Linked DNA regions of Homo sapiens: region 2 is linked to region 1. The links come from fine-mapping of genetic effects on gene expression. Tissue or cell type: whole blood. Region 1 holds a variant in brackets; the other region holds the start of a gene. All regions are shown on one strand. Distances are from middle to middle.

What was found. PIP is the estimated chance that this variant, and not a neighbour inherited with it, causes the effect.
Region 2: TSPAN17 starts here. The variant in region 1 is fine-mapped to the expression of TSPAN17 in whole blood (INTERVAL, PIP above 0.99).

Annotation. Positions count from the first base shown.
Region 1 is chr5:176,860,476-176,868,553 of GRCh38, reverse strand. UNC5A (unc-5 netrin receptor A) reads right to left here. Exons shown (of 15, transcript NM_133369.3): 2 at 5,709-5,930; 3 at 281-424. Among named protein-coding and RNA genes, the nearest start is that of HK3, 35 kb to the left of the region's middle. The variant C/T (reference allele first, on the strand shown) is at 4,105.
Region 2 is chr5:176,644,480-176,649,479 of GRCh38, reverse strand. TSPAN17 (tetraspanin 17) reads right to left here and starts at 1,996. Exons shown (of 9, transcript NM_130465.5): 1 at 1,778-1,996. The coding sequence starts at 1,864. EIF4E1B (eukaryotic translation initiation factor 4E family member 1B) reads right to left here. Exons shown (of 9, transcript NM_001099408.2): 7 at 4,237-4,350; 8 at 3,964-4,103; 9 at 2,836-3,614. The coding sequence ends at 3,500. RefSeq lists enhancers at 1-736, 3,098-3,392, 3,663-4,173, 4,755-5,000 and a silencer at 1,765-2,424.

The DNA.
Region 1 (8,078 bases):
AGGAATGAGAGTGTCCTCCTGTCTGAGGGCCTCGCACAGGCTCAGCCTGGCTGGCTGTGTCCCTTGTCCTGCAGGGGCCGTGGCACATGGCAGAGGAAGTGCCAGGTGGCCAGGGGGCCATGGGGTGGCTGGGCCGTGTCCACAGGCACTTTATCCACTCATCCAGGCAGGGCTGTGAGGTTTTCTGACCGGACCGCCTCTTCCAGGAAGCCTACTGTCCCCTCTCCTGGTGACACCCTCCCGCCGTGCGCCCTCCCCCAGGGCCCAGCCCTAGACTCACAGGCTATGCGGATGTAGGCCTTCTGACTCTTGGTGGTGCCCGAGGAGCTCCATGCCACGCACTGGCACCAGTATTCCTCCAGCCCGAACACCTTCTCGACCTGCTGCCTTGAGACATTAATGCGGACCTCCATGGTGGGCAGCCCTGGGGGCGGGAGGGGCAGGTAGTCAGAGCCCCAGGGCCACCCTGAGCTTCTGTGTGTGGGTTCCTGCGCCACCCTCAGCCACTCTCGCTGACTGGCAAGGGAGTGGACTTTGTTTTTTTTTTTTTAAATTTTATTATTATTATATTTTAAGTTTTAAGGCAACCTCCAGCCTGGAGGAAACTCCAGGGGGCCCAAGGGCCGCTTGATTTCTATCTCCTGAAGGCCCCGGGCAGGCAGGGTAGACCTTCCATTCATTATACTTTGTTACCTGAGGCCTGACTCCCCGGAGTCACTTACAGAAATGTCCATAAAGGGGCTGCCGTAGAGCTTTGGGCCAGAGGGTCTGACCTCCAAAGACTCCAGGCAGAAGGGGTGGGGCAGACAGGCTGAGCTCTGCACCTCTGTGGGTAAAAGAGGTGAGGAAGGATCTGGCCCCCTCCCTCGGGGGCTAGCAGATAGATCCTGACGTGATAATATAATAACAGTCATTAACAATATAATTGCAGTGATTATGTAGTATGATGCTAGCGCCCTGGGACTTAGGGTTTCCCACGTGCCGGGATGGGGATGTCGTCTTAATCCACTCCCTTGGACAGAAATGCAGAGGGAAGTGACTTGCCATGGGGACCCGGGACTGTCTGCATCCGAAGGGTGAGCTGGGGCGCCTATGCACTAGGGAGAAACTTTGGAAGAGGGTGAGAGAGCAGCCAGCAGAGGGGGAGCTGGGGGTCTAGGACCCGCTCTGCCTAACTAGGGTGAGCTGGGGGGACTCCGCTCCAGGCTGGACTCAGCCCCCCACCTTCTGCCATATCTGGCCTGAGGCAGGCTGAGGACCCTCTGACAACTCAGGAGCGGGGGCAGCAACCCTCCTCCTGCCCCGTCTGTAGCCAAAACCAGCATCCCCAGCAGTGAGAAAAGACTGTTTGCTTCCAATTTCTCCTCCTCCTGACCCCAATTTCCCTCGGGTCATTGGCTTATCAGAAAGGGAGAGAGAGGCCGGCAGCCAATGTGTTTCCATTGTTAACAGCGAAATTCAATTAGGGCTGCATTGCGGGAAGAGCGGCCGCCCAGCTGAGCCGGCAGGCTGGGAGGCTGTTTCCCTCTTAATTTCTCTAACATGACTTTCTCCGACTGCTTCCCAGACCCCTCCTCACAAGCCTCTGGGCTCTCACACTGGGTGTCCAGATTTTTCTATCACTTTGTCCCTGTCGCCGGCCAGCTATCATAGGAGATGGCAGAGCTGTCACCTCTGGTGAGATCATGGTAGCTGGGCCGCTTCCCTCCGTTCTGGGCACCACCTGCCCCGTTCTCTAAGACACCCAGTGTGGACACTCTCAGGGGGTGGGGTGGGCAGGCTGAGAACGAGGGGGTGGCTCACAGGGTCCTTGTATAGGAGAGGGGCCTTGGGCACCAGCTATCTTTCAATGTGACTTAGGGCATCTGATAAGGAGATCTGGGGAGGGGCCCTCCACTCCCTTCATCCTCTCTGCCTTGGGGGTTAGGGGTGGGAGACCTCCAGAACATTCTGAACTGGGTACTTTTTCTCCCTTGGGTGGACAAGTCTGTTAATGGTTCCTCCATCCCCCGTGGTGCTGTGGGGAGCCCGGCCCTCCTTCAGGAGCCTCACCCATGGCCCAGGCGGCTCAGCTTGGGAGAACAGCACTACCTTTAAGCGCTCCCTTTTCTTCTCCCTTTGCCTTCCCTCCCCTTCTGTCCTGCCACCTCCTCTCCTCCCTCTCACTTGCATGAGTGAGGGCCAAGTGTGTCCTCAATGTGCCAGCTCCACGCAGTGCCTTGGTGAGGGGTGCCCTTCAGCCCCACAAGCTCCTGGAGGGCAGTGCCTGAGGCGGGGGCTGCAGACCCGGCCCTACCCCATCTTTGATGTGAGGGGCTGTGCGCTCTCCTCTTGTGGATCATCAGGCAGCCTGGTTCCTGGGAGCAGTGTCTGGGTACAGCTATGTCTGTACCTGCCCATAAGTGTGAGCAGGTGCCAGCCCTGGGGAGGGACCCCGGGCCAGTGGGCCTGGGCGGGTGTGTGTGTGAACCTGGGCTGCCCAGGGTTTCTAGCTGGGGCTCTGAGGCCAAGCTGGCACTTCGGTTCTCACCTTCTCAGCAATCTGCTTCTAAACAATCTAATAACCAATCAGTTTGTTTAACACAAAATAAGTTATACTCCCAGACCGGACTCCAGTGCTTGGTTTTGCAAATTTCAGGCTTTTTTTTAGTGTTAGCAGGTTTGGGTTCCAGCACTTCAGGCCTTGGTCCCTGCCCCCTGGCCTTCTGGGTGAGGAATGAGGGCAAACGAGAGGGAAGTAGGTGCTCTCCTGGGTGTCCATCCGGCCACCTCCAGCCCCACACATGAATGAGTGGGCTGCAGAGCTGGGTGGGCCTCCGAGCCCTGCCATACCTGTCTGACCACAGAACGTTTCTGGTTTGGGGTCTTTGGTCTTTGGCGGCGTGGCGCCACTGCCGTGGTATCTGCCGTGGGTAAGGAAAGCCTTTTTCTTCACCTCAAAGCACTCGATGGCTTTGGGTTGAGAAATCGATGAGATCAATGAACGTTCAGATGTTCCGGCCATGGGAGGCTGGAGTCGGATGCTCGGGGCAGAAGAGGACCCTGGCGGTTACGGGTGGGACGTGTCCCAAGCTCTGCTTCTCTGCCCGGCAGGAAGAGAACAGGGCCACAGGAGCCGGCTGGGGAGTGTGGGCCAGGGGCTCCCGGTGTGTGTGCCGGCCCGGGCCTGCGACTGCTCATTCAGGCAAGGGTCTGGGTTCCTGCCAGTCCATGGATCTGAGCCCTCATAATGGCAGGGGTGTTTCAGACAGAGGGGTGTGCGGGGGAGCCCGGAAGGGGGTGCTGGGAGCAGCAGGGGGCTGGACTGGAGCTTCCAGGCTGCAGGAGAGCAGCTCTCTGGCTGTGCTTTCCCTGGGGGACCTGCCACAGCAGTGGGAGAACTTATGCTGAAGGGACGCTGGGCCCCGGGTGTGGGGTGGGGAGAAAGGAAAGGCCCCGTGCTGGGTCCTGACTGGGCACGTGAGATTTCATGGCTTCCCCCGACCAATCTGCAAGGGGCAGGATGGAGGGGAGGTCTCCTCACCCCCATTTTACAGATGAAGAAACTGAGCCCAGGGAGGGGAGGGACTTGCCTGCGGTTCTCCTGCAGACCCTCCCAGCAAGACAAGGTGGGCCCTGCTGCTGGGCAGGGAGGCCTCTGGCACCTCCGCTGGGGCCGGGAGAGGCTCTGGTCCTGGGAGGTGTTGGTGCCCAGGGTTCTGTTGGGCTACATTGGCCGCCAACCCTCTCTATCTCCCTCTGAGGGTAGGAGGTAGAGCTGGATCACTGCCCTGAGAGCATAACTCCTAGTACCTAACCCAAGGCATGGCACAGAGCAGGTGCTCAGCGAACACCTGAAGACCGCAGGTGAGAAGCTGCAGTCAGGCCAAGGCACTGAGACGACACTTGGGGGAGGGAGGCAGTCCCTGCTGACCCTCACGGAGGGGTGGTGTGTGACTGCTGCAGACGAGAAGGGCTGGTTGGAGCCCCGGCAGGGCTCTGGATGAGTAAGAGCCAAGGCCTCAGTCTCAACCGTAAAATGACAAGCTGGTTCTGGGGCTAAATGGCACTGCCTAAATCCAGGGCTCTTCAGCTCACCTCAGATCACTGCCAGAGCTTCCAAAC[C/T]GTTCTCCCTGGCAGGGGCCTTGCCCTCCTCCAGTCTCCCTGTGCCCAGCACGGTCTTCCTACAGTGCAAGTGCGACCGCAGCCCGCTCTGGTGTCTCAGCCTCCAGGGGCCCCTTAGCGCAGTCTCCTGGCCACTGCTGCCTGCCCCGGGGTTCGCTCTCGCTCCATACCCGAGCCACCCAAGGCTGTTCTGCGCCTCTGCACCTTCCATTCTACAGGCCTGGGAGATGCCCTTTCCAGGTGGTTTTGAGACCTGAGCTTGGATGTTCCTCCTCCGCTGGGAATCCTTCCTGGGCCACCTCTCTAGGCCCAAGGTCCCCGGCCTGCCCTTGGCATCAGTGGGAGTCCTGGGTGACACCTGCTTGTCCCAGCTGCACTGTGGCTTGAGCCTCACGGCAATGGCCTGTGTGTCCCGCACGGGCTGTGCCTCGACAGGGTATGTGTGCTGTGTCTCAGGATGGCTGAGGCCTTGGTGGGAGGGGGCTCAGGACTACCCCTGAGGTGTCATTATGCGTGGGGTGCTCCACAAAGCACCAAGGGAGAGGAAACTGAAACAGGCTCTAATGAGTGAGGAGGAGGAGGAAAGGTAGGAGAGGAGTGGGGGAGGGGAGGAGGAGGGGGAGGAGGAGGAGGGGGAGGAGGGGAAGGAGGGAAGAAGGGGGTAAAGAAGGAGGAGGGGAGGGGGAGGAGGGGAGGGAGGAGGAGAGGGAGGGGGAAAAGGGGGAGGAGGGGGAGGAGGAGAAGCTGTTGTTTGCTCCTGCCTCTCTCTCTGCCAGTCCTTTCTGGGGGAGTTGCGGAACCCAGACAAGGGCTGTCTGCCCACGTCCCCAGTGCCACTTAAGGCCAGGGCTGGGGGTGGGGAATGTGGTGTCTCATGGAAGAGGTGCTTCCTGGGTCTGCTCGCTGCCCCTAGAACCTCTCTCTCTGTGCCCCCAGCTGAGTCTGGCTGGCCCCCTCTGCTCAGTGTCTCCAGACCTGCTGCTTCCATCAGCCCCAACTCTGGCCCCTGAATCACATATAGCTCTGGCCATGTCGCTCTGCAGCTTGAGATCCCCTAAGACAGTGGCATCAGTTTGGTCCCCTGCACACCCTCACCCTCACTGCTGACCCCACCACCGGCATGCCGGCGTCTGCCTCCAGGCTTTCCTGGGCTGTGTCCCCTGCCTGGGATGCACTTCCCCCTTCTGCACTCCCTAACCGGTTCTTATGCCTCTCTCAGTTAACACATCACCTCCCCTGAGGGGCCTCTCTCCCTGCTGAGAGGTCACCCCGCTGTCTGCCTCTCTGTGGGAACTTGGGCTCCGAGGGTGGCGGGCTGTCCCCAGCACGGGAGTGGGTGCTCACAGGTGTGAGTGAATGCCTGACTGATCGAATGAACCGACGCACAAAGAAAACAATCACTGAATGTGAGGTCTGGGAGCTCCTTGGTCATCAGGGACCCCCTCTCTCCCCCTCCTTCTCCCCAAACTGCTGAGGGTTGTGGCCTCTGGGGAAGGCCTCCGGGGTCCCAGGTGGGGAATCCTGGGGGCAGCTGCAGGCTCCTCTGGGGGGGCCGAAACTCGCCTCCCCCGGATTGGCCCTGCCTGGCGCCCCATGCGGCTCACCACTGCTCCCGTCTGTGCTGCGCTCGATCACGTGGTCCACCTGGCGCACCCACTCCCCGTTGCACTTGAAGAAGATCTGCGTGGCGGGCACGGCCTTGCACACAAGCAGCACTGGCTTGTTCTTGACGATGTACACATCCTCGGGCTCCACCAGGAAGTGGGGAAGCAGGTCCGGGTTGGCACCAGGCACTGGGTTGGCCACGGTGGCACTCTGCTGGGCACCTGCGGCAGGGCAGAGGGGGAAGGTGAGCCAGGGGCCAGACTGGGCAGGGTAGAGGCAGCGGCTCAGCAAACGATTCCACCGTGGGTTGGGGCAGATGGGAGGAGAGTGAGTCCAGGCTCTGCCATGTCCCAGCTGGGCAATCTCAGGCCAATGACCATCCCCCACCCGGGCCTCCATGTCCTCCTCTGTACAAGCAGGGAAGGAGCAGCCCATGCCATCCTGAAGACCGTGGTGAGGTGAAATGAGACCTGGGCGGAGTCCCAGCACCGAGGTGGCCTGGCGACTGCCTTCCTAGAAGTCCAGGGATCTGGCCAGGCAGGCCCCTGCCCGGGAGGTCCAGGGCAAGGCTGGCCAAGGTGAGAAGGTCCCTGGCCAGGCAGGTGAGCTGCCTGGGGCGAGGGAGGGAGCAGCCCTGGCCAGTGGCCGCCTCTGGGGCCCTGCTTCCTGGTTGGCCCCATCCCTGGCCCTGCACATAGTAGGTGCTCAGAAATAACATGCGGGGTGGGCACGGGCAAGGCGAGAGCCGGGAGTCTGTCTGGGAATCTGAGATACCTGGGCCACCTCCTTCAAGGAGACCTGAATATGTGGGTTTCCTTCTAATTTTAACTGAAAACCACAACCATCCCACAAGTCATTTGTTGCTAATTACACAGGTAATTGGCTTGGAGGCACTGGCAGAGGTAAAACCCCCAGAGTAGTCTGATCCCTGCCCAACCAGCAGGTCCCCTGAGAGGATGGGGTGGGGGTCACCCTCAGCTCCCACAACCCCCAGCTGCCCTTTGAACAGGTCCTCAGCCTCCCTGGGGCTGCAGTGATCCCCCCACCAATGCGCATTCACAATTGCAGCCCCTGGGCATAGAGGGAAACCCTGGGTTTCCAGACCATCTATTCTGCTCATCTTAGTGGTGACCTTGGGGAGCGAGTGGCTTGCTATCTGTGAGATGGAGATGACAGCTGCCTGTGGGGATGTCCACAGGCCCCTCACATGGATGGCCTCTGGGCTCCTCCACCCTCCCCACGGGTGATCCAAAACCCACCCAGGGCTTCAGACTGGGAGGCCTGGGCCCACCCTACCCACCGAGGGGCACATACGCCTGGCCCACTGCCCCTTTCGCTCCTGCTTGCGCAGGGACCCTCTCCCCAGGGTGGGAGTCCGCCCTTCACCAGGACCCTGGTTTCACGGCAGGAGGTGTGTGCACCAGCTCCTGCAGGCGCCCTGGAGGGCAGGCTCGGACCGAGGGTTCAGGGGCCTCTGCAACTTCAGGCAGGTCCATCCACCCCATCCTGAACCTGTTTCCTCACCTGCAAAATGGGGCGTGGTGCCCAGTTCTTAAGGCTGTTGTGAGGATGAAATGAAACAGGCGTGAGGCACTCAGCACAGTGCTCAGGGAGCGTAGGCTGCTGTTGGTACCCCCACGGTTCTGCGTGTTCCACAGCAAAGGGCTGCACCCCCTCAGCTCGGTCATCCTCACAGCAATCTCATAGGGGGTGAGAGCCAACAAGGAAACTGAGGCACAGAGCTGGCAGGTGCCTTAGGGATGGCAGAGGGAGGCTGGCTGAGCTGAGGGGTGCAACAGCTGTGTCTTTGTGAGCTCAGGGGCAGATGGGTGTGGAGGGCATTTGGGACATAGCCGGACAGTTTGTCCGCTGCTGGGTCGCCGGCCCTCCCTGGGCGCCTGCCCCTCCTCTCACTCTCTGGCCTCCCTGCCTGCCTCCTGCCCACCTGCCAGACTCCGGCCTCTCCCCAGCTTGGCTTTTTCCCTTGTGTGCCCTCCCACTGGCAACTGCCCCCCGCATGTTCCGCAGCTCTGTTATGGACACCAAGCCCGCATTCATAAGCGGGGTCACACTTGCAGTTCACATGTCGTGAAAATGAAGGTCATCAGACCCAGACCCACCCCACCCTGAACCACCTCTGCTGGGGTCTGTCGTAGGCTCAGGAAGTGGCGGAATGCAGGCGACGCTGGGGGGTGGGACCAAGACACCTTATTGACGGGGAACCTGAGGCCCGAGGGGGTCCCTTACCCCAGAGCCTCCAGCTGAGACACTGGGCTCATCAAGTGTACAGTCACCTGTGTGCTCGCCATGGTCACTTGGCAGCCACCGGCCAGCCCTGACCCAGACGTGGGACCCAGGGGTGGGCTCAG
Region 2 (5,000 bases), 220 kb after region 1:
CTCCAGCCTGGGCAACAAGAGCAAAACTCTGTCTCAAAAAAAAAAAAGAAAAAAGAAAAAAGGAAACCACAAGCAGTTTCCAAACAGAACAACACCAGGGTCTGCCTGACATTAAACATGAAAACCTCTGTGCCTGTTCCACAAGCAGCCTCCCTTAGGCCACCTTAACCCAAATCTGAAATCCTCCCTCCAGCCCCCAAGTGACCCAGCCCAGTCAATTCAGCCTCTTGACTTTCCCAGCAACCTCCCTCACCTTTCCCACCTCACCATCCCAGCTTTGCCCCAGCCCTGCCCCCATTCCAAACCTCCAGGCCCTGCCCCTCATCCACCCTCCACACAGCAGCCAGGCAAGCGGTCTCCAGAACAGAAGCCAGATCAGACCCATCACTGGAAGCCCTCGCTTCTCCATGCCACCTTAACATAACACCCCACGCTCCGCCCCAGCAACAAACCCGGGTCTCTCACGCCTGCTCCCCCTCGGTATTTGAGGTTACTTCTGCTCACAGCTCTGCCTCACCTCCACCCTCTGCCCACTAAGCCGTCACCTTGGCTCTGTACTTTCTGGCTGTGTGACCCTAGGTAAGTGACTTAATTTCTCTGTGTCTATTCCTTCAGTTTCCCCATCTGTAAAATGCAGATAATAAGGCAGTTGTGAGAATACAACAAATTGAACTCATTGTATCTGCCTAACAGCCCTCACAGGCAGATTCTTTATCGTCGTCTCCCAGGCAGGCAAGCTGAGGCCCGGAGAGGAGAGATGACTTGCCCAAGGTGTCCCAGCCAGGCCTGCTACAGCCAGGCCTTCTGACTTCTTTGCCAGTGCTCCCACACACTGCCCACACCCTCAAGAGCCTAGCGCTGCAGTGCAAGGACACCCACCACACCAGTGAGCTCGGTGACACGTGGGTGGGGGGCAGTGCCACTGAGTCTTGCTGAACACAAGGGAAAAGGCCTGGCATCTTGACCCAAGGCCTCAGGAGCAGAGACTGCAGAGGGCCACGGCTTTGGAGAGATGGGAAAAATGACCTGGCAGGGCCCAGGGGGACAGATGCCACCCTGGGAGGGGCACTAGTAGCTCCCTTCCCCGGTAGGGGCAGACCCGCCCAGGAGCCTCAGCTTGTCAGCTGTGGAATGTTGAATTCTGTTCCCCAAGGCCAGCTCCCAGGCTCTCAACCGGGGAGATCCTCTCCCAGCCGCCAAGGACTCGCCATTGTCCCTCCCTGCCCCTCCTGGCAGGTCAGCCTCCTTGTGCGGGACTGGGGTGGGCAGAGGACTGTGACCCACCCCACTCTGCAGGAGCCTAAGGTGAGGCACCTGACCCAGGTACTACTGGAAGGGAAAGGAGGCCGGGGAAGGGGCCTGGCGGCTCCCTTCACGCCAGAATCTCCTTACCGGCTAAACCAGGGGTGGGGCTTGGCACGCATCCCACATCCCAGGGTAGGAAGGAGGGCTGGGCGAGAGGGGGCAACCTGCACCTAGCACGCCCCTGGGGTCTTCAAGGAAACACCTTCCCTTTCTCCACCAGGCCTCGGGATTATTTAGGGAGACTCCCTACCCCAACCCCGACCCCACGCTGTCGCTAGGACCCGCCCCCAGCAATCCGGGCCTCTGTAGCTACCTCGGGTGGTCCTGGAAGTGGGCGTGGGTGTGGCAGAAGTGGGGGGATGGTCCCGAGCTCCAAACTCTTGGGGCAGGGAGTGGTCTCCCCCAGCAAAAGACTGAATCTCCCTCTCCCACCACCCCCCAGCACAGGGCAAGGCGCAGACCCCGCGCTCACCCAGAAGACAATGTTGAAGCCAAACAGGAAGTATTTCCCGCAGCAGCCGACCTCAGGTTCCTGGAAATGCTGGTGCTTGCCGGGCATGGTGAGCGGCCACCCGCCGGCCCGGAAACCGGAGCCGGGAGCCAGGCCCAGCGCCCCGCGGGCCGCCCTGGGCTAGAGCCGCCCGGGGCCTAGCCGGGCGGCTGCGGCTTCATGGCCTCGGCCACACAGAGCGCCGGTCGGGCCCCGCCCGCCCCTCAGGGACCGCCCTCAGCATCCAGACCTCCTTGCCCGGAGCCCTGCTGTCCCCGCCTCTGGACCGGGCCCCGCCCCCACAGCCCTCAGTCCCTTTGGAGTCCCGCCTCCTGACCTGGCTCCGCCCCCATAGATCAACTCAGTCCCGCCTGAGCCCCGCCTCTGGACCTGGCTCCGCTTCCCGAGCTCCGCCCCCACAGCCTGATTCGGACCTCCTCGCAGCCCCGCCTTCGGCCAGGCCCCGCCCCCGCGCAGGCCGCCGCCGCGTTTCCCAGCGTCCTGCAGACCCGCCCGGGACGCCGGCTGATGGCGCCGGAGGCCGCCGGGGTGTAGAAGCCTTGCTTCCCCTGCTGGGTACCAGCGCCATCCCAATCCCCAGCCTGCTGTTGGAGCCCATCCCAGGGGAAGGTTAACTGCTGCTCTGGCAGGCGAATGGGGAAGCTGGTCCGGATTGAGTTTTTAACACGTGCAGGACGTTTTGTCATTGTGGAGTCGCATCAGGCTCACCTTCACCCAGCGGAAATCCAGCTCTACTTATCCTGACTCAAACTCAGGCCAAACGAGGGCCTGGGCCTTGGTGCCACGCCGGCTGCGCCCTGCCAGGGGCATATGCCCCCCGGAACCTGGCTCAAGCCCCCTTGGTGGCTGAGTTTCCCCAGCCACACCCCCTGTCCTCCATACTGGCCAGGGTCCCGGTCAGGCTCCTTGGTACCCAGTGATCTCACATGAGCCCCTGTAAGACAGGACAGAGGCAGATCAAAGTTTGGGGGAACCTGAATCTTACTCCAGTTTGAAGCCCTCTTAAAAATAATTCCAACTTTGTTCAGAAGTATTTATTTAAAACAGGAACAGAAAGATGCTTAAGCTTTTATTATCAAGTTTATCCACTTCCACCACTTCTACCAGAACCTTGGTGAGGCCTAGCCCAGCATCCCTCCACCTCCACTTCAGTCTGGCCCTGAGGCAGGCAAGGCCCAGACAGCCCTGGTCACAGCTGGGGAGAAGGGGAGCGGCCTTGCAAGGCTCTCTCAGTCCTCAGCAACCCACGTATCCCTCTGTACAAATGATGGCGTTCACCCTCCAGAATGTCTGTGCCCTTGAGCCCACCACCCATGGAAGAGTCTGTCTCTCAGGCCACCTCACCTCCTTCCTGGGTGGAAACAGTAAACGCTGGACTATGGGTTTCTCCGCCTACCATAGAGCCCTCCTTCCCCGCCATGACTCACCCCACCCTCAGGAGTTTTTTCCACCCTGCTGCTGTCCTGTGGCCCCAGGACAAGCTAGGTCCTCAGACTGCCACCACTACCCCCATCTAGCCCCTAAGGCTCAGGCCCCAACTCATGTTAAAGAGTGTTTGCATTCCTGTTCACTTGAGGACAGGTAAGAACTAGGCTGTCTGATCCCCAGTCCCGCCCCATCCCCCAAAGTAATGAGGCTCAGTGGCGGCTGTCCCATTACATAGGAGGGGTGCCAAGGCCCCCCTCACACCACAAACTTGTTCTTGGCTAGGGAGTTGCTCTTGGTGGCTGTGTCTGCATGGGCCTGGTACCCAATGATGGTCTTTGGGGAGAGGCCCAGGCGCTCTTTGTATACACGCCTGCAGGTGCGGGGGACACAGAGGAAAAGAGACACAGGTAGTCATCAGAGGGTCCTAGAGATAACTTAGGCCACCAGACTCCTACCCTCATTCTGGCCACAGCCACACCTGTTGTGTCTTACCCATGTGGAAACCCAAAATATGACCCCCTTAATGCAAAAGGAGAGCTGCACTGCCGTAAGAGAAAGTTAGAAATCTGAACGCCAGACCTTCCATACAGGTGGGCAAGGCAGAAGGGAGGGAGGCTATGGAGACTTTCAGAGGTCTCCCATGCAGGCCAAGCCCCCTCCACCCACCTTCCCTCTAGCAGAGACCCAAGTCCCCACCCTGTGCCAGAGACCCTCCTCACCCAACGTGCAGCACGCCCGCCTGGTTTTCCGCCTCCCTCGTCCACACAGCGATCTTGTCCCCCTTGGTGCGGATGTTGACGACGGCCCCACATACCTCTCTGCTGTGTTCCTCAAAGCTCTCCCCGATCAGACACAGCAGCTGGACCCGAAGTAGGGGGTTGTGAGATCACCGGCTGGGACATAGGGACTGGCCTGCCATCCTTGAGACCACTGCCACCATGAGACCCACACAGCCCGTCTCTTCCCCTGAGGACCCTCCTCCTCCAACTCACCGTCTCCAGCCACAGCCGGTCCAGCTCAATGTGGCGCTGCTGCTTGGCCAGGCTGACCAGCCAGCGGCCACCCCGTTTATTCCTGCTGTCCTCCCACATGGGCTGGATGCCATCCTGCAAGGCAGATGGCAAGTCAACTGCCTCCCTGTGTTCAAAGGGAAATGGGGACCCACCCACCATCCCGGCCTTATCCGCTCTCTGCTGAGGCCCTAAGTAGGCCAGATTCTCTTATCCTCCCTTCCCTCAGTGCAAGCAGGTTCCACCCCCAGCCACTCAGCTCCCCCCGACAGACAGCACTGGTCACCTTGTATAGCCTTGTATATGTGCATGTCTCTTTTACTGAGTTCCTTAAGACAAGCATTCAAATCGGGGTGGATTAAGGAAGCCTCAGGGGCAGACCCCAATGCAGGCAAGGGGGACATCCCAGGCTTGGCTGCATGGTTCCCAGGCAGGGCAGAAGTCACTGGGGAGATCTCTAAACACAATGTCAGCCCTCCAGGGATGGGTGTGGCATCAATGAGTGTCCTCAAGCAATTCTGATGCCCTTCCCTAGTTAAGGAGCCAGGTCAGAAATCTCTCCCTCTCCCTCTTCCCGCCTCTTAAGGTCCTCCAAGGTGCGGCTTGGGCCTGACCTACTCTGTCCGGGCTCCTGTAGAGCATTTCCTCCAGTCAGAAACCACAACTCTGCTGAGAGGTGGCCCGTAGCTCCCCACCCCCACCCCTCTGAGGGATTAACGCAGTGGAGTCCGGGAGGGATCAACCCC